Homo sapiens: one gene and its partners. Changing the gene in region 1 together with any one later gene gives a genetic interaction. Each region holds a gene or a part of one and is shown in the gene's direction. Other genes may lie near its edges. The genes, in order: VPS4A, SCYL1, BNIP1, RTF1, SEC22B, COPE and PSMD1.

Region 1 (3,045 bases):
CCTGCTCCCCGGCTGCTCAGGTGACACAGTCTCTGAGGCCTCCTGGAGAGCCGAGGGCCAGTGCCATGGGGGCTGCACCCACTGTCCCCTCCCTGCAGCTCTTCTGGAGTGTGGCCATCTCAGGGTGTGTGAAAGCAGAGGACAGGGCCACTTTACTGTCTTAACCCTGCTGCGGCCTCCTCCGTCAGCACTGTGTGCTCTTGTGCGGGGTGGACACCAAATCAGTGTTTGGAAAGTGTTGGATATAAAATGACCAGGAAGACCTGTCTATTCATTCAGCAGATCTCTGCTGAGTATTTGCTGTGGGTCCTCCTGTGTGCCCGGCCCTGTCCTAAGTGCTGGGAAGATATGAGTGACCAACAGACAAAAATCCTAGACCTTCCGTTGTTGGTGGGGAGACAGTCAACACAGTCAGTGAGTGTCTCAGAGGATGGAGATGGAGCAGGGTTAGGAGAGAGGTGTCTCGGGCATGGAGGGAAGGGCAGATGGCACTGGGGTGATGCCTGAGACAGGAGGTGAAGGTGTGAGGGAATGAGCCTTGTGGACATTGGGGGAATGTTTTGCCAAGGCAGCGGACTTCAGTTGGAAAACCACTTTGTGTTAATCTATTTTCATGCTGCTGATAAAGACATACCCGAGACTGGGAAGAAAAAGAGGTTTAATTGGCCTTACAGTTCCACATGGCTAGGGAGGCCTCAGAATCATGGTAGGAGACCAAAGGCACTTCTTACATGCTGGTGGCAAGAGAAAATGAAGAAACAAAAGTGGAAACCCCTGATAAACCCATCAGATCTCGTGAGACTTCACCATCACGAGAATAGCACGGGAAAGACCAGCCCCCATGATTCAGTTACCTCCCCCTGGGTCCCTCCCACAACATGTGGGAATTCTGGGAGATAGATACAGTTCAAGTTGAAATGTGGGTGGGGGCACAGCTAAACCATATCACACTTTTAATGTCACTGTATTCCTGGTGAGACGTGACAGTGTTAATGAGGAAGACATCAAGGCATTGGGGCTACAGATTGCCAGAGTCCCATGCAAATCATGAGTCGCTCGGACCACCCAGCCCGAGTTCTGAAGGAGCCCGTCCTCCTCAGATGCTAGGGACCCACAGAGCATTCTCTTTGGGACTTCCTTAGAGACCGGAGGGGTCGAGCCCCTCTGACACTGAGGGGCAGCTGCCCCAGTCAGATCCATTTGGTTTCAGGTCTGTGGCCCCTCTCGCACCAACCCCAGCATGATGATTGATGACCTCCTGACTCCATGCTCACCAGGGGACCCAGGAGCCATGGAGATGACTTGGATGGATGTCCCTGGGGACAAACTCTTAGAGCCTGTGGTTTGCATGGTAAGTGACTTGACAGGGGAGGGAAGAGGGCTGCACAGAGCCCAGAAAATTGAGGGTTTGGGTCCAGAATAAAAACGGTCTTCTCCAGGCCAGGCATGGTAGCTCACGCCTGTAATCCCAGCACTTTGGGAGGCCAGGGTGGGCAGATCACAAGGTTAGGAGTTCGAGACCAGCCTAGCCAATATGGAGAAACCCTGTCTCTACTAAAAATACAAAAATTAGCCGGGTGTGGTGGTGTGCACTTGTAGTCCCAGCTACTCAGGAGGCTGAGGCAGAAGGATCGCTTGAAGCCGGGAGGCAGAGGTTGCAGTGAGCAGAGATTGGGCCACTGCACTCCAGCCTGGGTGACAGAGTGAGACTCCGTCTCAAAAATAAAAAATAGTCTTCTTCTATGTCCTGGGCTGTTGAGAATGGCCTTTGTAGCTCAGGGAAGCTGGCATTACACTCACTGGGGGCCCAGAATGCAGGTGGCAGCATTAGCATTTTGTACATACAGAGAAAGGCTAGATGCAGTGGTGCAGTGATAGCTCACTGCAGGCTTGACCTCACGAGCTCACACAATCTTCTGACCTCAGCCTCCTGAGTAGCAACAGGCACACACCATCATGCCCAGCTAATTTTTCCTTTTTTTTTTAGAAACGGCCTCACAGTGTTGCCCAGGCCAGTCTGAAACTGCTGGGCTCAAGTGATCCTCTCAGCGTGGCCTCCCAAAGTGCTGGGATTACAAGCATGAGCTGAGCCACCACACCTAGCCTGCATTTTATATTCTTTAGCAAGTAAAGTCAGGTCCAGATAATATGACGTCAATCCATGGGTTTGGCTTTGCGGTGCAGTGAGGCAGTGAATGTGTCAAGACTGTGACGCAGTTGCAAAGGCAGCGCCTCACCTGCATAGCCTGGCCCGTGCCATCCTGGCAAGGGTCTGCCCTTGTGGCTGGTGTTGGGGGTGTGCAGCTAAGAAGGCTCCTGGCCGGGCGCCGTGGCTCCCGCCTGTAATCCCAGCACTTCGGGAGGCCGAGGCGGGCAGATCGCCTGAGGTCAGGAGTTCAAGAGCAGCCTGGCCAACATAGTGAAACCCCGTCTCTGCTAAAAATACAAAAATCAGCCATGTGTGGTGGCACGTGCCTGTAGTCCCAGCTATTTGGGAGGCTGAGGCAGGAGAGTCACTTGAACCGAGGAGGTGGAGGTTGCGGTGAGCCGAGATCATGCCACTGCACTCCAGCCTGGGTGACAGACTCCGTCTCCAAAAAAAAAAAAAAAAAAAAAGAAAGCAAGTTCGTAAGGGGAGTTATGAGATGATGGAGCTTAGATTCTCAGACCAGGAGGAGGCCCATCTGAGCTGCCTCGAGAGGGAAGAGGGTCCCTGCCATAGGCAGATTCAAGCAGGCCTCTGGGGTGGCCTTGAAGGCAAACCTCTTCCCACCCTCAGCTGCGCCTGTTGTGTGCTGAGGGGAGGTTGGGGACCTGGAGCCTGGCTCCTGCTCAGGCACATACTGTTGCCTTCACAGTCGGACATGCTGCGGTCTCTGGCCACCACCCGGCCCACGGTGAATGCAGACGACCTCCTGAAAGTGAAGAAATTCTCAGAGGACTTTGGGCAAGAGAGTTAAAAGCTGCTTCACTTGGGCAATGGTGAAGGTGGGAGGTTGATTGGGGCAAATCCAGGCACTCCCCATGTCAACAGCCAGACAGGGC
Region 2 (3,500 bases), on another chromosome or scaffold:
AGTTCCTGAGCGCTGAGGAGTATCAGCAGAAGATCATCCCTGTGGTGGTCAAGATGTTCTCATCCACTGACCGGGCCATGCGCATCCGCCTCCTGCAGCAGGTGAGGCCTCTGTACCAGACTCTGTGGTGGTCCACCCAGACCCCAACCTGGTGGCTGGGGAGGCACCTGCCCTGGCTGCACAGGGACCCCAGAAACCCCACCCCTGAACATACACACAACTGAGGGACCCAATGAGGCCAGGCTCTCAGAAAGTTGGCCACATACAGGGCTCCTTGGCAGTTTTGGGAATGGCCAGCTTGCCCAGGCTGCAGCGCTCTAATGCCCCCTCCTCTCCTGGCTCAGTCACTCTGGCCCTCTAGAGTGGGGATACAGTCTTTCTCCTGCAACCCCAGGGCAGCTGGGAGCATCAGACAAGATGGATGGGATCTAGGAAGTACCAGTGGCTCCCAGTGCCATTCCCTCTGTGACCACCAAACACACCAGTCCTCCTCGTGGCACTGTGGGCAGGTGGGGAGGAGCAGGGAAGGGGTGATACCCTCATTTATAGAAGAGGCTCAGGCTGGGCGCAGTGGCTCATGCCTGTAATCCCAGCACTTTGGGAGGGCCGAGGCAGGCAGATCACCTGAGGTCAGGAGTTTAAGACCAGCCTGGCCAACTTGGCGAAACCCCGTCTCTACTAAAAATACAAAAATTAGCCAGGTGCGGTGGTGGGTGCCTGTAATCCCAGCTGCTCAGGAGGCTGAGGCAGGAGAATTGCTTGAACCTGGGAGGCAGAGGTTTCAGTGAGCTGAGATTGCGCCACTGCACTCCAGCCTCGGTGACAGAGCAAGACTCTGTCTCAGAAAAAAAAAAAAAAAAAAAATAGAAGAGGCTCTGAGAGGGTGGCCAGATGAGCCGGACTATGAGCCAGGCCTTCCTAGCGCCCTCCTGGCCTTTCCTCACTCCTCCACCTGGGCCTGAGGCCAAACACCTGGGTGGTGGCTCAGGAGGTTGACCTGGCTGGCCAGTGCCTGCTGGGTGGAAAAGCTAAGCCAGGAGCGGTTCCATGGCTATGGGGATAGAGTGGGAAGGGCTGACCATGTTGACGCATCCCAACCTGGGCCACAGATGGAGCAGTTCATCCAGTACCTTGACGAGCCAACAGTCAACACCCAGATCTTCCCCCACGTCGTACATGGCTTCCTGGACACCAACCCTGCCATCCGGGAGCAGACGGTCAAGGTGGGTGTGGCCAGGCCCAGAGTGGCTACCCCTGGTTTTCCAAGGCTTGGAGGGGCTCACCCTAGACACAGAGGCCTTGGCTTTGGCCCATGGGTCCAAGCAGACACTGTCCTTGCTGTGTGGGTTCAGGCCGTGGGTGCAGCTCGGCAGCTGGCGGGGGAGCACGTCCTCCATTCAGCAGACAACGAGCATCTGCCTGTTCCTGGCCCAAGCCCCATGCTGGGAGGCAGCATGCATGAGGTGCCCAGCCCCCTGCACTCATGGAGCTTCCTTTCCAGGGCACAGAGGGTGGGCTTGCCAGACAATACAACAGAATTAGAAAATATGTATTGTTGGCTGGTCACGGTGGCTCACGCCCATAATCCCTGCACTTTGGGAGGCTGAGGCAAGCGGATCACCTGAGGTCAGGAGTTCGAGACCAGCCTGACCAACATGGCGAAGCCCTGTCTCTACTAAAAAGTACAAAACCATCTGGGGATGGTGGCGCATGCCTGTAATCCCAGCTACTCGGGAGGCTGAGGCAGGAGACTCAATTGAACCTGGGAGGCAGAGGTTGCAGTGAGCCGAGATCATGCCGTTGCACTCCAGCATGGGCAACAAGAGGGAAACTCTGTTTCAAAAAAAGAAAGAAAATATGCATTGTTGGAAAGTGTGGGGAGAAGAGTTTGTGGTTTTAAAAACAGTGGTCAGGGGCTGGGCGCAGTGGCTTACGCCTGTGATCCCAGCACTTTGGTAGGCCGAGGTGGGAGGATCGCTTGAGCCCAGGAGTTGGAGACCAGCCTGGTCATCATGGCCAAACCCCATCTCTACAAAAAAATACAAAAGTTAGGCGCGTATGGTGATGCACGCCTATAGTCCCAGCTACTCGGGAGGCTGAGGCAGGTAGGTAGCTTGAGCCCAGGAGGTTGAGGCTGCATTGAGCTGTGATCGTGACACTGCATTCCAGCCTGGGCAACAGAGTGAGACCTCATCTCAAAATTTAAGAAATTATTTTAGGCCGGGCCTGGTGGCCCATGCCTGTAATCCCAGCACTTTGGGAGGCCGAGGCGGGTGGATCACCTGAGGCGATGGGAGTTTGAGACCAGCCTGGCCAACATGGTAAAACATGGTAAAACCCCATCTCTACTAAAAATACAAAAAATGGCTGGGCCCGGTTGCTCACACCTGTAATCCCAGACTTTGGGAGGCTGAGGTGGGCGGATCACAAGGGCAGGAGATCAAGACCATCCTGGCTAACATGGTGAAACCCCGTCTCTACTAAAAGTACAAAAACAATCTAGCCGGGCATGGTGGTGGGCGCCTGTGGTCCCAGCTACTTGGGAGGCTGAGGCAGGAGAATGGTGTGAACCTCGGAGATGGAGCTTGCAGTGAGCCGATATCGCGCCACTGCACTCCAGCCTGGGCAACAGAGCAAGACTCCGTCTCAAAAAAATAAAATAAAATAAAAATTAAAAAAATTAGCCAGGCATGGTGGTGGGCGCCTGTAATCCTAGCCACTCAGGAGGCTGAGGCAGGAGAATTGCTTGAACCCAGGAGGCAGAGGTTGCAGTGAGTAGAGATCACACCACTGCACTCCAGCCTGGGTGACAGAGTGAGACTCTATCTCAGAAACAAAAAAGATACGGAGACGAGAGTGGCTCTGAGGCTTGTGGCCTGAGCAACTGGAAGGTTAGGAGTTGCTATTTACTGAGATGACACAAGCATGTTGGGCCCCATCTTGGCTGTTTCTGTTAGGCAGCTGGATGGAGATGTCGAGTTGGCCACTGGTTATGCATGTGTGAAATTTAGGGAAGTCTGGGCTAGGGGTATGTGCCTGGGGGTTGTCAGCTCACAAGATGGCATTGAAAGCCATGAAATGGCTGAGATCACCTAGGGCAAGAGTGTTAGATAGAAAAGAGCCCTCTAGATTGGCTCCGGGTGTGTGAACGTTAGAGTCTCAGCAAAAGGAGCAGCCAGCCAGGTCAGAGGAGAACCAGGAGGGGGTGGTGTCCTGGAAGACCAGAGACCAAAGTTTCAGGGAGGGAAAACTCAGGGGTGTCAGAACTGCTGAGGGTCAAGTTTGGTGAGGATGGAGAACTGGCTGTTGAAATTAGTACCGGGGAGGGCATCAGTGACCTCACCCTGAGCCAGTTTGGCAGAGTGTGGGGCTGTTTGTGTGAGTCTAGGTGGAGTGCCATCAGGAGAGCAGAGCAGAGGAAATGGGAAACAGGAGTGCAGACAGACTTTGGAGGTTTTGCTGTAAAGGGGGACAGAAATGGGGTCCCTTTCTTCAACATG
Region 3 (3,500 bases), on another chromosome or scaffold:
ATCTTCGCTCCTCCGCCTCCTGGGTAGCTGGAACCACAGGCATGCGCCACCACCATGCCTGGCTAATTTTTTGTATTTTTAGTAGAGACGGGGTTTCTCCATGTTGCCCAGGCTGGTCTTGAACTCCTGGGCTCAAGTGATCCCCCCACCTCGGCCTCCTAAAGTGCTATGATTACAGGTGTGAACCACTGTGCCTGGCCACGATTTTTTATTTCCTACAAAGTATATTAACTCAGCAGCTGAAGGGCCAGAAATGGTTGTTCAAGATACTGGAGATGAGTAAGTCATGGTTCTCCGGGGATGGTACCAATTAATACACAGGCCATAGCAGTACAGCCTTAGAGGCAACTGGACTGAAGAGGGGCCTTGTGTGACCAGCTGGGAAGTTTGGATGCCTCCCTGAAGTCCAGCCATTGTGGAGCTGTGCACAGAGGAGTGCCATGTTCACAGCCCCTTGGGCTGACGGGGGCAGAGTGACAGCAACAGAGCCTCCCCGTGGCGACCTCCAGGGTCCGGTCAAGGGGTATCAGGACCTGAGCAAGAACAGTTGCTGGGGAACCAGGAGGCGGAAGTGGCAGGAGGTGGGATGGGCTCTGAAGGCCGTGCCTGGTGGCCTTCTCCCGTGTGCCTTTGTTGGGGGGAAGTGCTGTGAATTGAACTGACTTATGGCTTGGTGGAGTGGACACACTCACACGTGAACCTTCCAATTCCAGCAATCAGGCCTCATGGAGGAAAGCTAATCTCACCTGCAAAATTGCAATCGACAATCTAGAGAAAGCAGAACTTCTTCAGGGAGGAGATCTCTTAAGGCAAAGGTACCTATTCTTTTATTTTTCTGGGCTCCGATAATAATAGATAACAATTGGCAAGGTGTAGGAAACCCCCTCTTGTTTTCAGCTTGGTGCTTAATTTAATTACATAAGTAATTTTTTTAAGTTTGAAAAAAATGCATACTTATTTGTAGTAAATTGGTAAAATAAAGTATGAATTACAAAATTAAAATATTGAATTTTTTTTTTTTTCTGAGATGAAGTCTCACTCTTGTAGCCCAGGCTGGAGTGCAGTGGTGCCCTCTTGGCTCACCGCAACCTCCGCCTCCTGGGTTCAAGTGATTCTCCTGCCTCAGCCTCCAAAGTATCTGGGATTACAGTTGCGTGCCACTGCACCCAGCTAATTTTTTGTATTTTTAGTAGAGACGGGGTTTAACCACGTTGGCCAGGCTGGTCTTGAACTCCTGACTTCTGGTGATCCACCCACCCCAGCCTCCCAAAGTGCTAGGATTATAGGCGTGAGCCACCATGCCCGGCCGAAAATATCAAATCTTATTACTCATGAACATTTTGGTATATTCTCTCCCTCATTTTTATTTCTACATTTCTTACAAAGTCAAAATTGTACCATACATAAAATTTCATATTCTGCTGTTTCAGCACAAAAGTTGTTCATTAAAAAAAAAAAAAAAGCTTTTTAAGCCTAATTCTAACAGTACATAGTATGTAGATTGTATGTTAATACAATTCCCTGTGTGTGTTTGCATTTCTAGTGTTTAAGTAGTGTAAGTAATACACCAGGGCATGTCTTAGAACATAAGGCTTTATCCACATTTTGGATGTTTCCTTTGGAGGGATTTCCAGGGATGAGATGATTGAGTCAAAGGAATGAACATTACCAAGGCTCTTCAATTGGCAAATTGCTTTACAGAAGGCAGCACTGGTTTATGTTCCTACTAGCAGTCCACAGGGGCGTGGGTCTCAGCACACCCTTTCCAGCATTGAATGTGATCATTTAAAATATGTATACTAATTGGATAGGTAAAACATGAGATCTCATTTGGATGTGGGGCCTTCTTGCAGGGAGGCTTTTGTTGACATTCCTCCCCTTTCTCTTCCTCTGAACTTTTAGGAAAACCACCAAAGAGAGCCTGGCCCAGACATCCAGTACCATCACTGAGAGCCTCATGGGGATCAGCAGGATGATGGCCCAGCAGGTCCAGCAGAGCGAGGAGGCCATGCAGTCTCTAGGTAAAGCTGGGCCTGGAGTAGGAAGCTTCTCCCAGAGACGCTGCTCTAGGGCCCTTGCCCTGGCACCTCCACTCTGGGCTCCTCCACCACAGCCCACACGATGTTCACTGACTTGGGTGGCTTCTCCCTCATGAGATGACTTGACACCATGGTCTTATCCAGTGTGGGATGTGCTGCTCCTATTTCTCTTTTTTTTTTTTGAGATGGAGTTTCGCTCTTGTTGCCCAGGTTGGAGTGCAATGGTGCGATCTCAGCTCACCGCAACCTCTGCCTCCTGGTTTCAAGCGATTCTCCTGCCTTAGCCTCCCAAGTAGCTGGGATTACCGGCCTGCACCACCACACCCGGCTAATTTTGTATTTTTAGTAGAGACGGGGTTTCTCCATGTTGGTCAGGCTGGTCTTGAACTCCCAACCTCAGGTGATCCGCCTGCCTCAGCCTCCCAAAGTGCTGGGATTATAGGCGTGAGATGCCACGCCCGGCCCGTATTTCTGTTTACTAGAAGACCCCACACCCCCATCGATGTTTCCTCAGGGGGAGCATTCCCATGTGTTCATGTGAAAGGCAGAGGTCCCAGCCCCTCTCCTAGAGAGGGTGTCGGCAGGGCTGGGTGAGGGGCCTGGAGTCTGATTTTCAGTGAGGGCTCTGGGGACCCATATGGCCAGGCAAGTTTGGGAATGGTTGCTCCAAGAGATGTTTGGCGAATCAGCTGCTGGTAGGACTGCTAGGACCTCAGTTTACAATTATACTCCCCAACGTTATTTTTCCTATGAGTTCCTTTTAAAAGATGTGAATCAGAGGCTACAGGAGAGACTGCTTGAGACCATCTGGTTTCCTCCAATAGTTTTCCCAGAGTGTCTCCTCTGTGATGGAGAAGAGTATCAGCCCTCTCCAGGGTCCTTCAGTATAAGACAACAGAAAAAGGGCGTTTACTCCTTGAAACGCTTTTGGAAAATTGCACACGTGGACAAAAGGAGAAAGCATGGTATCCTGAATCCCCTGAGCCCTGAGTCCATTACCCCAGCCAGTCTCGTTTCAGTTCTACCCTCAGCCCATCCCCCATCTGGATTATTTTGAAGCAAATCCCAGACATCATCCATAAATATCTCAGTACATCTCTCTAAAAGATAAGGGACTCTTTGGGGAAAAAGCAGAAGCAACCCCATAACTACAATACCATGATCACCCCTAGAAATTATAATTTTGGACCACTGTTTTTTCAGTGCACCAAATAGGCAGAAGCAAAAGGAAAGCAAGCAGGTGACCCCAAGGTCACTCCTTGAGTTTGCAGCTTACCTGAACATCTGGGCTCGGAACCAGCCAGGGGCTTCCTCTCAGCGTGTGCTGTGGGAGAGGCCTTGGAGAGAGAGGGAGCAAGGCGACAACTTGGCCTCTGAGCCCAGGGCTTTTATGCTCTGGTGTGGCGACAGCATACCCCCCGCTAACAGTGGGAAGGAAACACAAATGCTGGTGGCTTCTGG
Region 4 (3,500 bases), on another chromosome or scaffold:
AGTAGCTGAGACTACATGCGTGCACCACCACCTAATTTTGTTTTGTATTTTTAGTAGAGATGGGGTTTAGCCATGTTGGCCAGGGTGGTCTTGAACTCCTGACCTTAAGTGATCCGCCTTGCCTTGGCCTCCCAAAGTGCATGAGCCAACACTCCCAGCCTAAAATTTTTTTATATTATTCTTTTTTCTTTTTAAATCGTAAGTACACAGATTAACCTGCCATCTTAGATTAATGGTAGCATATTATACACAGTTTTCTCTCTCTTTTTTTTTTAGCCACCACTCCTGGTTTGTTTTTTGTATTTTTGGTAGAGATGCAGATTCACCATGTTGCCCAGGCTGGTCCCAAACCCCTGAGCTCAAGTGATCTACCCACCTCGACCTCCCAAAGTGCTGGGATTACAGGCATGAGTCACCATGCCTGGCCACGTTCCTTTTTTTTTTTTTGAGATGGAGTCTCGCTCTGTTGCCCAGGCTGGAGTGCAGTGGTATACAGTCTTGGCTCACTGCAACCTCCGCCTCCCGGGTTCAAGCGATTCTCCTGCCTCAGCCTCCCAAGTAGCTGGGATAACAGGTGCCGGCCACAATGCCTGGCTAATTTTTGTATTTTAGTAGAGACAGAGTTTCACCATGTTGACCAAGCTGGTCTCGAACTCCTGACCTCAAGTGATCCACCTGCCTCTGCCTCCCAAAGTGCTGAGATTACAGGCGTAAGCCACCGCACCCGTCCCCACGTTCCTTTTTTATAGCTGCATAGTAGTTCATTGGTAGATGTACCAGTGGTGATTTAGCCACTCTCCTATTTTAAATTTTCCTCAGAAGCTTCTGAAGTCATCATGAGTCTTTCCCCCTCTTTCCTCCCCATAGTCAAGTGTCTTGAGTGCCATAAAAGAGAACTGTCAGTAGTGTTGGTGACCCTTTCTGCCCACCTAGTATCAATCTTCCAGCCCTTTTTTCATCTGCTGGGGCCTGACATTTGGCACCTGAATAATTTTAACTCTGTGTTTTAACTCATTTCTGTATATACCCCAAGTTAGCACAATCCAGTCTAGAGAGGACGGAGCTGTGTATTTGAGTCCTCTTCCATTTCCAGTTCTTTTTCAAGGATGAATTCATTTTCTTGTTGAGAAAACCTAGGTAAACATCTCTTCTTTCTTTCTAGCTGAGCTCCTTGCCAAAAAACAGCCATTAAAAACCAGTGAGGTCTACTCTGATGATGAAGAGGAGGAAGAGGATGACAAATCCAGTGAAAAGTCAGACCGCTCATCACGAACATCATCGTCTGATGAAGAAGAGGAGTAAGCTCTTGTACATTTTGGTCTAGTAGGCAGGATAGGTGGGTTTTTGAGGAAGAGCTTGGTATCGTTTCCAAAATCTCCCTGGTTGGGCCACTAACTCTGACATGGTTACCTTTGGTTTGCTGAACTGAGTTCCCCAGCACGTCAGCCCATTCATTTGGCTGCTAGCCTGTACGCTTAGACATTTCACCTGGGCCTGGAAGGTAGGAACTGACTTCGTGTCATTCTCAGATTGGCCTGGAGCTTTCATTCATTTTCTTTTTTTTTTTTTTTTTTTTTTTTTTGAGACGGAGTCTCGCTCTGTCGCCCAGGCTGGAGTGCAGTGGCAGGATCTCGGCTCACTGCAAGCTCCGCCTCCCGGGTTCACGCCATTCTCTTGCCTCAGCCTCCCAAGTAGCTGGGACTATAGGCGCCCGCCACTACGCCCGGCTAATTTTTTGTATTTTTAATAGAGACAGGGTTTCACTGTTTTAGCCGGGATGGTCTCGATCTCCTGACCTCGTGATCCGCCCGCCTCGGCCTCCCAAAGTGCTGGGATTACAGGCTCATTCATTTTCTTACTCTGATGGGTTATCTAAGATGGCAGCCTCATTTGAAACAGCTCATACTACTGGTCAGGAACAGGATCCTATTACAAGTCTTTGCTGGTGCTTCATTTACTTCTCCTCCTAGGCCAGTCACATGTACTTTGGTTAAGTTTTGAGGAGTTGATATTATTTTTCTGTCTTGTTCTGTTTTTATGATGAACATTTTTTCCAGTGCCCCTTTGTTCCTCTTAGGAAAGAAGAGATCCCTCCCAAATCCCAACCAGTTTCCTTACCTGAAGAATTGAATCGGGTTCGATTATCACGGCATAAGCTAGAACGCTGGTGTCACATGCCCTTCTTTGCTAAAACTGTCACAGGATGTTTTGTGCGGATTGGCATCGGAAACCACAACAGCAAACCAGTTTACCGGGTTGGTATTTCTTCCCTTGGACAATTGTCCATGCTTTCAGTATAATTAGTCTCAACTGAGGGCAGGAGCTACTGAAAAAATCGATCACTCTTCTCTCAGCATTTGATGGAAAGTAGACTCCAAGTGGGATCCCCATAGAGCAGTGAGGTGCCCAGGAATCCTTCATGACTTGTTGCCAAGAGGAGGACTTGGAGCCCAAGGGCCTGGAAGATTTGGATGTAGAATAATTTTCTCTATTCTCCCTTCAGTATAAAAGGGAGAAGGGAGGCATCTATGAAGTGTTCATTGGGAGTTACATAATCTAAAAGATTTGTTCATTTGAAAAACCAATGAATGAAAAGTTTCATGTTGCATACCAAGTGACTTCTACACCAGGGAATTGTATTGAGGTTAAAAAAAACCCTCCAGACTAATACAGGTTATTATGTAGGTTCCAGCACTGCTTCTGTGGTCTAGGTGGACTGGGCACAGTGGCTTACTCCTGTAATCCCAACACTTTGGGATTTATTTATTTATTTATTTATATTTTATTTTACCATTATTATTATTTTTTTATTTTTATTTTTTGAGACGGAGTCTCATTCTGTCACCCAGGCTGGAGTGCAATGGCGTGGTCTTGGCTCACTGCAACCTCCGCCTCCCGGGTTCAAGTGATTCTCCCGCCTCAGCCTCCCAAGTAGCTGGGACTACAGGCGCATGCCACCACACCTGGCTAATTTTTGTATTTTTAGTAGAGACGGGGTTTCACCATGTTGGCGAGGCTGGTCTTGAACTCTTGACCTTGTGATCCACCTGCCTCAGCCTCCCAAAGTGCTGGCGTGAGCCACCGCACCTGGCCTATTTTTATTTTTATTTATTTGTTGTTTTTTTTTTTCAGACAGAGTTTCGCTTTTGTCGCCCAGGCTGGAGTGCAATGGCACGATCTTGGCTCACTGCAACCTCCGCCTCCTGGGTTCAAGTAATTCCCCTGCCTCAGCCTCCCGAGTAGCTAGTGTTACAGGCACCCGCCACCGTGCCTGGCTACTGTTTGTATTTTTAGTAGAGATGGGGTTTCACCATGTTGGCCAGGCTGGTCTTGAACTCCTGACCTCAGGTGATCCACCTGTCTCGGCCTCCCAAAGTGCTGGGATTATTGACATGAGCCACTGAGCCCGGCCTTATTTTTAATTTTTTGTTTTTTATTTTTGGAGACAGAGTCTTACCCCGTTGCCCAGGCTGGAGTGCAGTGGCACGCTCTTGGCTCAC
Region 5 (3,500 bases), on another chromosome or scaffold:
ATCTATGTAGTTAATTAAAGTTAAAGTTTTTGCAGATCAACTACTCAAACTACTAAATACATTTACCTGAGAAAAAGTCTCTGAGAGCACTTCATTCCTGTTTTAGTTCGTGTAAATTCTCTGAGAATGTTCTGGAGATAGATAACTCATTTACAGTGGTTTCTATTAACTAATTAAAGTACCCATGATTTTTTCCTTTTCTGCTCAGGGATGATGGAGATTTCCTTTTACCTTCTGAGGTAGAATTTTTTAATGGGGAAAATAGGCCTTTTAAATATTATTGCCAGGGTCTGCAATATAACTTAAAATTCCTGTACATACTGCAAATATTTCTTTAAATTGCACAGGAAAATGAGCGAACTTTTTATTTCTTAATATCTTTGGCAAAAAACTTTAACCAGTAAGCAATTTTATAACCCTGAGGGATCATCAAAGATACTATCCTGATTCCTGGTAAGGAAAAATATATTATTTCCTTATAACAAGGCAAGGAGAAATGCTATTTTATTCCTGATAATTTATATAACTAGAATAATTTTTTTCCTTTCTTTTATGGACCTAAATCTGCCAATTGGGAATTTTGTGCATGAAATATGAAGTTACTTTTTATAGATAATCAGTGCTTTTAAGTCCCTAAAAGGCTCCTGCTGAAGTAATGATGATGTTAATAATAAAAGCCTTTGAAAGGCTGAAAACCTACATAGTGGTACCATAGTATTTGGAGCTTCTATAGGAGTGGAGAGGGGCAGCTCATTGTTGAGAGTTGCATGCTGCAACCTAATGGTCAGCAATGAAATAAATACTTGTAGAATGTTCACTTCAGTGTGAAGTTTTGTTATCTAGTTAATTTATATACATATATCCTTTGTAGATACATTTCTATCTAATCTTGTTGGGCTAATTAAGAAATAAGGGGTGGGGTAATTGTCAACAAAGGGAGAAGAAAGTGGTTTAAGATCAGGGCAGCAGAAAAATTAGAGAACAAGAATATCATAATATGGCTCCTGGTTTTCTTTATAAGAGGCAGTGGGAAGATCTGACTAGATGAAATGTATCATCAACCAAACTGGCATCTAAAATAGAATGGGATAAATACTGTATGGGGTTATTGGAGGCATATTAAGAAAGGACACCTAATTTATTTTGGGAAGAAGTATGTTAAGAGAAGACTTTCTAGAGAAGGAGAATGGGGCATTCTAGGAAGAGTCAATGGCATGTGCAAAGGCATGAATAAAGACAGTGAGGCATATTTTGGAAATGTAACAGCTTGATTCAGCTTAGCCCATAGGGTAAGCATAGACAACAGAGGAGACTTGAGGAATGAGAACTAGATGGGTACACTATCATAAAGGGACTTGTCTATCATGCTGAGGAGTTTAGACCATCTTAATGGTAGTGGCCAAGGATGGCATCAGATTTATAGTTTCAAGTGATCATAATATTGGCATAAAAGATATATTAGGGAGGAAGCCTGAAGTAGGGAGATGAAAATAAGGAGCCATCAAAGGCAGAATGAAACTTAGGCAGATTTCAAGTGATTTTCAAAAATGTTGTGATCAGAGGTACCAGATAATAACTATTACATAACACTTTCTTTGTTAGGAGCTTATTTCTCACACTGACCAAAGCTTTTGAAGTAAGTACTCTTTACACCACTATATAAATAAACCTTACAAAGGATTCTGCTTTGAGGCATGAGAGAGTTAAGTCATTTGCCCAAAGTCACAGAGTTAGAAAGTAATAGAGCTAAGATTTGAACCTAGGCAGTTTGGCTCCAGAGTCTGTGCTCTTACGCTATATTACCACCAAGAGGTCAAATAAATACCAAAGAATGTATTTTCGAATTTAACAATGAGGAACTTAATCATACAGGCAGAAGTAATTCCAGAGCACTGGAGACAGAAGCCAGATTGCCATATGGGTTAAAGAGTGTGTAAACCACTAGGAAGTAAAGACATAGAACTACTCTCACAAGTGCTTTTCTGGTTATTGTGACGCTGAACTTCATGGCTTGTTTTAATTAAGACATCTTACAAGTGTCAAAATTTGGAAATATTTGGACACTGTACACTCTGGTTATTTAAATATCTAACAATGGTTCTTGAGCATTTTGAGAAACCTTTGAAAATCTGATGAAAGGTATGTGCCATTACTCTAGAAAAATGTTCCTGTGTACATGCACATCAAGTATCACATACTGTTTCAGGCTGTTCAAAGACTACAAAGTCTGTTCATGACCTAATGGTCCATGTTCCCTCAGTTAAGAGCTCCAGAGATAAAGGATGTGGAACTCAAAGGTAAGTACCCAGAGCCTTGAAAACTCCATCTGTGACTTGGAAGAATTCTACAATTTGAATTAACTTTGTGGAGAGAGATATATTTTTGAAAAATTGTGTGTACCAAAAAAATTTCATATCAAATAATATTTTCCTGTAGTGCATTCAAGGATCTGGTTCCACAGCAAAAAATTGTTTTGGTCTCAGTTCCTCAAAATCACATTTAAGGAGCTTGAGATTTATATTTTCTACTTAATAAGTCTTACAAAAGCAAGTTAAGAAGGAAAATGGACAATCATTTCTGCACATATAGGGTTTAATAAAACATGTATAATAAAATATCTCATATTTTAAATTTCCACCTTATTGGTAGCTTTCATGACAAAGGGCTAGGGTGCTGATGGCCATACAATTAAGGTTTTTGGTTAGTTAGTTAGCAGAACTAACTGACTCCTACCTGGTGGGTTTTTCTTTTGTTTGGTTGGTTGGTTGGTTGGTTTTTTCCCAGATGGCTCAGGAGGAAGGTAAATAGCAGTCATTGTATGTGTGACAGAGTTTGAGATAGAATGAGCATATTGAATCTCACATCCTATTCTTATTACTGTCAGGCAGCGTTGACCTAGCAGTATAAAACTATCTGAAGCAATGTAGTCACTCAGTTCTCATAAAGTTTATTTCAAGTACTGTAACAATTCATGTTTGGATTAGAAAAGTCACTAGAAATTTGACTTCCATATAGTAATCTATACTTTTTTCTCTCATTTCCTTCATTTTTTGAGCCGTAAGTGTAAGGCATTTTGCTGGTATTATTACAATGGTTATGAGGAGTTTCTTTGCTTGCCCAAGGTCACATAGCTAGCAAGTTAAAGTAGATTCAAATCCAGGCCTGCTAGATACCAAATTATTATTTAAGAGTACTTTTCACTACTCCTAAATAATGACACAGATACGTTTGTCTTACACATTTCACTTTATTGTCAAGTTATTAGTATGTTTATTTTCAAAAGTTATTTTTTGCAATTTCTTTTTATTATTCCGTACTTTTTAAATTTACTTCATTATCACGTCTTCCTTTATTCTTTTTAAATAGTTTTTGCTTTTGTTATTTTGTTTTCCCTTTTTTACTCTTGGTTTGTAATACCTCTTTCCTTATTTGCTCCTTTCTCATTTGATCTCAATGTTAATCCAACTGTTTTCCACATCTGATTCACTAAAATTTTAGCC
Region 6 (3,500 bases), on another chromosome or scaffold:
GGCTGCTTCTCCAGATGGGCGGTGAGTGGGCCGGGGCCTGAAACCCCATCCTGGGTACCTCCCCCAGAGCTCCTGGGCCTGAGGAAGCTGAGCGGTGAAATGTGGGAGTGAGGGTGTCCTCCTCTGCTGGGCGGGGCTGGTGGTCCTAAGCACAGGACTTAGGAACATCCCAGACACACACAGTGAGCCCTGGGTGTGGAGCGGCCATGCAATGTGTCTGTGGCGACCCGCTGACCGCCCCCTCGCCCTGTCCTGCAGCACAGCCATGACAGTGCAGATCCTGCTGAAGCTGGACCGCCTGGACCTCGCCCGGTGAGCCCTCCTGCCCCTCTCCACCCGCACTGAGCCACAGCCCAGAGCGTCACAGCCCAGAGCGTCACAGCCCAGAGCGTCTGTGGTGCTGTCATTACTCTTGTTGTCTTTCCTTTCCATGGGGGTGGCTTGCTGTCGTTCAGCCCTTCCCTGCAGTATGTTGCCAGGGAGGAGGGCCATGGCTCTCTGTGCCTCAGTTTCTCTCTATGCAGTGGGTGGCAGGCCTCTCCCACAGGGTGAGGGTGGGCTTCATGGAGGGAGAGTGGAGGTTGTGCCTGGAGCAACATGTTACTTGACCAGCTTGTAACTGTGCCGTGGGGCTGGCGGGGCCTGCACGTGGCATCACCAGGTCGGAGGCCATGGCTGGGGGTCCAGGACTCCCCTGCTGCCGTTTCCAAAGCCCTTGCCTCAGAGTTGTTCACACTGTAGTTCCGTTGCCCTTCCCTGCGTTCCATCCTCCATGGAGTGAGTCTCTCCTGAGCTCTACCTTGTGGTGGCCACCCTGGGGGGCCATAGCTGGCCCCAGTCCCACCTTCCCAGGGCCTGCACGTGGTCAGACGGGCAGGGTGGCTCGGGCACTTAGTCGTGGGGTATGAGCATGCAGTGGAGCACAAAGCAGGGGCCATCCCCAGGCTCCGGTGGGCCCCAAGTGGGGACAAGGCAGGGATGGCCAGGCCAGGGCCCTCGGCCACTCAGCCCCTCTGTCATCTGTCCCCGCCCCAGGAAGGAGCTGAAGAGAATGCAGGACCTGGACGAGGATGCCACCCTCACCCAGCTCGCCACTGCCTGGGTCAGCCTGGCCACGGTGAGCCCTAGGCCATGAGGTGGGTGGGCATTGCGGGCACCTGGCTGAGCAGGGTCTGTGGGCACCCCCACCTGTGCGTAGGCTGCTGGCCACTCCAGTGGGGCTCCAGGATCAGGCCGTGGCCCCTGCCAGCCTGGCATAACTCAGCCTTGACTCCATTCCGGGCTTCTCACAGCCAAGCGACTTGGCCAGAGCCAGAGCGAAGAGATGGTGGGGGCGGGGACGGGTTCCTGAGCCTGAGGCACAGGGGTACTCGAGGGTCTGGGTTGGCCTGGCAGGCCCTCCTCCCCTCAGGGCTTCCTGGGGTTTTCTGCGACTCAGCTTTGCTCTCCAGGGTCCTGGTCGCCAGCCAGGGACGGAGTTCAGTGTTCCCATAGCAGCGGTGGAGATGTCCTCAGCTCCCAGGCCTGGGCACCTCCGCCCGGCAACAGCCCCTCTCCTGGTTTCTGGGACTTGGCCCCCTTCTGAGCCACTCTTTTGTGTGGGCCTATTAAAATGTGCTTCCTGGCTGGTCGCAGTGGCTCACGCCTGTAATCCCAGCACTTCGGGAGGCCGAGGCGGGTGGATCATGTGAGGTTGGGAGTTCTAGACCAGCCTGACCAACATGGAGAAACCCCATCTTTACCAAAAATACAAAATTAGCTGGGCTTGGTGCCATGCACCTGTAAACCCAGCTACTCAGGAGGCTGAGGCAGGAGAATCGCTTGAACCCGGGAGGTGGAGGTTGCGGTGAGCCAAGATCGCGCCAGTGCACTCCTGCCTGAGCAACAAGAGTGAAACTCTGAGAAAGAAAAAAAAATGTGCTCCCCGTCCCTGCCCGCCACGGGGCTGAAGCCTCACCCAGACAGACTTCCAGTGACCGTCTAGTATGGTAGGACAGGCCCCGGCAGACCTATCGGGTAGTTTGGGCTGTTTTCACTGCCTGCCTTGGCCTCAGGCTCCCCCTGCAAGTGTTCTGCTGTTCTGAGCAAGTGGACAGGTCAGGGCTGCTGGTCACAGAGCTGACTCCTCCTCCTCTGACGTGCTCAGTGACCCAGTGGTCCCCACTCAGACCCTGAGCCAGCCACCTGTGCACTGAGGCCTTGGAAGCCCCAGATTCCACCTCTGTGTACTCAGCACTCCGGGAGCTGGGTGGGAGGTGGGGCAGGAGGCGGCCACGAGTCTTTAGGCCCCATCAGCAGAGTACAAGTTACGGGTAGTCCCCATGGCGGAGTGGCTGTGCCTTGAACCGGGCACACCAGATTCGTCTCTGTGCAGTGCTGGAGTCCCCCCCGCTAGGGGAGGGGGCTGGCGGGGGAAGGGCCGGGCAGCAGGGGCACAGGCAATGATGCGGGACCCTCCCTGCAGGGTGGTGAGAAGCTGCAGGATGCCTACTACATCTTCCAGGAGATGGCTGACAAGTGCTCGCCCACCCTGCTGCTGCTCAATGGGCAGGCGGCCTGCCACATGGCCCAGGGCCGCTGGGAGGCCGCTGAGGGCCTGCTGCAGGAGGCGCTAGACAAGGTAGGCACAAGCCTGTCCCAGAGTGGGGACGGAGGGAAGGCCAGGCGGCCAGAGGGTGGGGTCAGGGCGGACAGAAACAAGTGTAGCAGAGACCCCCTGGGTGTGCGTGTGGCCCCACAGGGCTTCTAAGGCCCAGTCAGCAGCGAGATCCACAAAGCAGGGATCTCACCTGCAAAGAAATCCAGATTCCGGCCTCACAGAAATGGGGCATCTGGGCAGCCTGGGCCTCAGTGGTCTGAGCCGTCCTTGTTGTCACCTCAGCTGCCTGGCCCGGGACCTGCAAGTGGGACCCCTCACCTGAGTACATACTCAGTATTGGAGAGACACTCCCCGTACTTATGTAGGGGAGAGTGTGCTGTGGACAGGAGCTCTTCGTTGAGAGAGCGCTGCCTGCCCAGGGTGGCTGCAGTCATCTCCTGCCTGATGTCTGCAGTCTTTTCTTCCTTCCTTCCTTCCTTCCTTCCTTCCTTCCTTCCTTCCTTCCTTCCTTCCTTCTTTCCCTTCCTTCCTTCCTTCCTTTCCTTCCTTTCCTTCCTTTCCTTCCTTTCCTTTCCTTCCTTTCCTTCCTTTCCTTCCTTTCCTTTCTTCTTTTTTTTTTTTTTTGAGATGGAGTCTCACTCTGTCACCCAGGCTGCAGTGCAGTGGTGTGATCTCAGCTCAATGCAACCTCCGCCTCCTGGGTTCAAGTGATTCTTTTGCCTCAGCCTCCCAAGTAGCTGGGATTACAGGCGGCTGCCACCACGCCTGGCTAATTTTTGTATTTTTAGTAGAGACGGGGTTTTGCCATGTTGGTCAGGCTGGTCTCAAACTCCTGACCTCAGGTGATCCACCCGCCTCAGCCTCCCAAAGTGCTGGGATTATAGGCGTGAGCCACCACGCC
Region 7 (3,500 bases), on another chromosome or scaffold:
AAAAAGCTATTTTGTTGTAACACATTCTTTCTTTGTATTCTTTTTTCATTTTGAAAATCCAATAATTTAAGGAAATTTTTAGAAATAACGAAGGTTTTTTAAAAAGCTAGAAGATTAAAACAGTGCCTATGCTATACTATATCATTCTAAAGAGAATTCAAAGTGTATAAATTATATATGGTTTCATTACCCATACACACCAAAACATTTGGGTATCTTTTCTTTATCTCTTTCTATATATAAATTTGCTTGCACATAAAAAAAAATTCAGATGGTACAGAAAATATATAAAATGAAAAGTAAGGCTTCTCTTTCCCATCATTTGGGCTTTTTCCCAAAGGTAAGACATAGATGTTTTTCCCTACTTATTCACACATGTGGATCTACTGCATTCTTTTAATGACTGTATTGTATTTTATTGACTGGAGGTGTGCATGGGTTTACTTTTTAACAATTGCTATGTTGTATACATTTTTTGTATTCTGCTCAGGGCATAGCATTTTATTGCACATTTTATTGTTTCTTCATTAAAATGTGCTCCTGTGTATTTTAATCCTCTAGACTTTGAAAATTTAGATTAAAACACTGTTTTTTACAATCCCTTTTAAAGCAAGTTTGAAACAAAATACTAGAAGAAAAAATATCCATGTTTAAATCACCCAAAGTCAACTTACTATTCTAACTTGATTTTTTACATCACCCAAAGTCAATTTAGTATTTAATAGTGTATTTCCTTTCAGTTTTCTCTACATAGGTTTTCGGAGTTTTGTTGTTTGTAAATATTTTTCATAGTTTTTTTTAAAACTGACATGAAAAATAGTAGTTCCCTGCCCTCTTCCTGTCTGTATTTCAGTTTTATTCCTTAGAGGCAATTTTATTTCTTTCAGCTGTTTTATTCCTTATCTTTTTATTATTTTTAAAAACTTTATTGCTCATTTTTAAAATAATATATTTTTGAGCAGATAATATGTTCATGTGATTTAAAATTCAAAAAGAATGATGGGGTATACAATGAAGTCTTCCTATTACTTGGCTCCAGCTACCAAGTTCTTTTCTCTGTGGATAAACAGTGTTAATTGTATACAGTCTTTAACATTTTTCCATGTTCTAATTCTTCATAGAGTCCTCTTACTTGATTGTTGTAATCATTCAGTGTATGTACTTTGCCCTACTTAATCATTCCCCTATTGTTGACCACTTATTTTGTTTGTGTTATTTCGTGTTCTTAATTTATAATAACTTTGATTAATGTGTTTATTTTGAAGTTGAGTTACTTGCTGCCTAAGGGAACAAGAAAATTTAAATTGAGTTTTTAAAAGAAAAATTCTAACTTTGTTGGATAATTTTGTTAAAACAATGGCAGATCATAAGAGTAGTAAGAGAAATGCTTCAAAATGGTAATTTTAATGTCTCTTGTCCTGGCCCAACACAACACAATGTATGTTAAATGAATGAGTAACTTCCATAATATATGGTAAGGGAGAAAATAACAAATTAAGGAGCACTTAGGTATAACTTATGGATAAGATTTAAAGAAGCCAAGATTCATTCAACAACCAATGTTGAATACTGCTGATTACCAGGCACAGCATTAAGAGTTATAAATATAATTTGTATGAATTTTTTTATGGAAGACAGATGCCATGTTTAGAAAAATTTCATCTAGTGCTGGGTTTAGAAATAGAGTGCTAGACTGGATAGTCTGCCCTAGTTTGCCTGTGCTTATATTTTAAGGTTTTCTATAATGTTGATTTTGTCTCCTTAAGTACCTTGTAGATGAAGTTTTTAATTATTGAATAATTGTTCTTTATCTCCATTTCAGTGCTTAATTTTCTTAGATGATCCTCAGGCTGTGAGTGATATCTTAGAGAAACTGGTAAAGGAAGACAACCTCCTGATGGCATATCAGATTTGTTTTGATTTGTATGAAAGTGCTAGCCAGCAGTTTTTGTCATCTGTAATCCAGAATCTTCGAACTGTTGGCACCCCTATTGCTTCTGTGCCTGGATCCACTAATACGGGTACTGTTCCGGGATCAGAGAAAGACAGGTATAAGTACCTTTTTCTGCATCAAAACTAATTGAATAATCTTTATTTCATTTTGGGGACAGGTAGAATATTTATAGGAAGCATATTCTAAGAATAAATTTTGCCACTAGCTTTCATAGATTGTAAAGTCTTATTAGGCTGTTGCTCTGTTTTGTACTGTGCTGGGTGTAGTAAGGAAAACCGAAGAAATTGACCCTTCTGGAAAGAAATAGAAGTGATTATCTCGTAGGGAGGGCCTACCAGACAACATGTGTACTATTTAATCAAGTAAATTTAAAAAAACAGGTGGGGATAGGTTGGGGCTACCTTTTAGATATTTGGGTTAGATATATCTGGGTTAGATATTTAGAAAGTAAAGAACATTCTCAGCTTTTTATGCTTTTATTAGAACTAAATACACAAATTTCTATAGTATTAGAAATTTGCATTCTGTACAAATTGATATGGTATTAAAATTTTATTTTTCTGTATTTTACACGTTTAGATCACTTACTAAAAACATTTGTGTGTCTTAGTTGTGCCTGTATATGCCGGCAGCCCCCTAGCCCGCTCTTTCACTGGATATCTGTGTCTGAGAAATGTGGGACTCTCTCTTTCACTTAAGCACTCAGAGGCCATTGTAGGGTTATTAATTGGCCTAATTTCAATATTGTTGTGTCTCAGGGAATAGGGAGTCCCAAGGAGAAGGAGAGAGATGGGGGAATGACCGGTGTGTGGAGCAGTCAGAACACACACATTTATTGATTGAGTTTGCTGTTTTATATGGGTGTGGTTCGTGGTGTCCCAAAACAACTACAATGGTAACATCAAAGATCACTGATGACAGATTACCATAACAGATATAACGATAATTAAAAAGTTTTAAATATTGCAAGGATAACTAAAATGTAACACAAGGACAAAGTGATCACATACTATTGGAGAAGTGGCTCCAATAGACTTCCTTGAAGGGCAGTAAAACAAAGGTATGCCTATATTTTTCTTTATATCACTACCTCTTTCCTTATTACTAAAACTATGCTAAGTCTTGCAGTCAGGTATTGTAAGACCTACAATTTTGATTCTTTTTTCTTTTTCAAGATTCTTTGGGCTATTGTAGATTTTTTGCATTATATAAGTCTGTGGGTGTTCTGATTGGGATTGTATTGAATATCTTCAATTTGGGGCACATTGAAATCCCGATAATATTGAATCTTGTAATCCAGGAATATGGTGATCTTTTTCATTTACTTAGGTTTTTTATTTTTTTCTCAGTAGTGTTTTGTAGATTCAGTGCAGAGGTTTTACACATCTTTTCTTAAATTAATGTTCTTATATCCCTAAGTATAATTTGTTTTTTGATGCTGTTGTGAAGTGGTATTTTTAAATTTCTATTTTTTTTGTTGGTAGTATATAGAAATATAATTGATTTTTATATACTAACATTGAATCCTATGACCTTGATAAAATCA

Evidence for each region.
Region 2: changes in VPS4A (region 1) and SCYL1 together harm fitness more than expected from each alone (negative genetic interaction), as found in Homo sapiens cells (one large-scale study listed by BioGRID).
Region 3: changes in VPS4A (region 1) and BNIP1 together harm fitness more than expected from each alone (negative genetic interaction), as found in Homo sapiens cells (one large-scale study listed by BioGRID).
Region 4: changes in VPS4A (region 1) and RTF1 together harm fitness more than expected from each alone (negative genetic interaction), as found in Homo sapiens cells (one large-scale study listed by BioGRID).
Region 5: changes in VPS4A (region 1) and SEC22B together harm fitness more than expected from each alone (negative genetic interaction), as found in Homo sapiens cells (one large-scale study listed by BioGRID).
Region 6: changes in VPS4A (region 1) and COPE together harm fitness more than expected from each alone (negative genetic interaction), as found in Homo sapiens cells (one large-scale study listed by BioGRID).
Region 7: changes in VPS4A (region 1) and PSMD1 together harm fitness more than expected from each alone (negative genetic interaction), as found in Homo sapiens cells (one large-scale study listed by BioGRID).

The regions. Positions count from the first base shown.
Region 1 is NC_000016.10:69,321,350-69,324,394, forward strand, and holds part of VPS4A (vacuolar protein sorting-associated protein 4A), read left to right. Parts: intron 1-1,210; coding exon 1,211-1,351; intron 1,352-2,858; coding exon 2,859-2,960; 3' UTR 2,961-3,045. UniProt on the Homo sapiens protein: Involved in late steps of the endosomal multivesicular bodies (MVB) pathway. Recognizes membrane-associated ESCRT-III assemblies and catalyzes their disassembly, possibly in combination with membrane fission.
Region 2 is NC_000011.10:65,531,583-65,535,082, forward strand, and holds part of SCYL1 (N-terminal kinase-like protein), read left to right. Parts: coding exon 1-101; intron 102-1,109; coding exon 1,110-1,223; intron 1,224-3,500. UniProt on the Homo sapiens protein: Regulates COPI-mediated retrograde protein traffic at the interface between the Golgi apparatus and the endoplasmic reticulum. Involved in the maintenance of the Golgi apparatus morphology.
Region 3 is NC_000005.10:173,158,031-173,161,530, forward strand, and holds part of BNIP1 (vesicle transport protein SEC20), read left to right. Parts: intron 1-713; coding exon 714-815; intron 816-1,902; coding exon 1,903-2,021; intron 2,022-3,500. UniProt on the Homo sapiens protein: As part of a SNARE complex may be involved in endoplasmic reticulum membranes fusion and be required for the maintenance of endoplasmic reticulum organization. Also plays a role in apoptosis.
Region 4 is NC_000015.10:41,469,095-41,472,594, forward strand, and holds part of RTF1 (RNA polymerase-associated protein RTF1 homolog), read left to right. Parts: intron 1-1,162; coding exon 1,163-1,298; intron 1,299-2,077; coding exon 2,078-2,255; intron 2,256-3,500. UniProt on the Homo sapiens protein: Component of the PAF1 complex (PAF1C) which has multiple functions during transcription by RNA polymerase II and is implicated in regulation of development and maintenance of embryonic stem cell pluripotency.
Region 5 is NC_000001.11:120,152,521-120,156,020, reverse strand, and holds part of SEC22B (vesicle-trafficking protein SEC22b), read left to right. Parts: 3' UTR 1-3,500. UniProt on the Homo sapiens protein: SNARE involved in targeting and fusion of ER-derived transport vesicles with the Golgi complex as well as Golgi-derived retrograde transport vesicles with the ER.
Region 6 is NC_000019.10:18,902,388-18,905,887, reverse strand, and holds part of COPE (coatomer subunit epsilon), read left to right. Parts: coding exon of another isoform or gene 1-21; intron 22-258; coding exon 259-312; intron 313-1,035; coding exon 1,036-1,117; intron 1,118-2,464; coding exon 2,465-2,620; intron 2,621-3,500. UniProt on the Homo sapiens protein: The coatomer is a cytosolic protein complex that binds to dilysine motifs and reversibly associates with Golgi non-clathrin-coated vesicles, which further mediate biosynthetic protein transport from the ER, via the Golgi up to the trans Golgi network.
Region 7 is NC_000002.12:231,070,367-231,073,866, forward strand, and holds part of PSMD1 (26S proteasome non-ATPase regulatory subunit 1), read left to right. Parts: intron 1-1,822; coding exon 1,823-2,049; intron 2,050-3,500. UniProt on the Homo sapiens protein: Component of the 26S proteasome, a multiprotein complex involved in the ATP-dependent degradation of ubiquitinated proteins.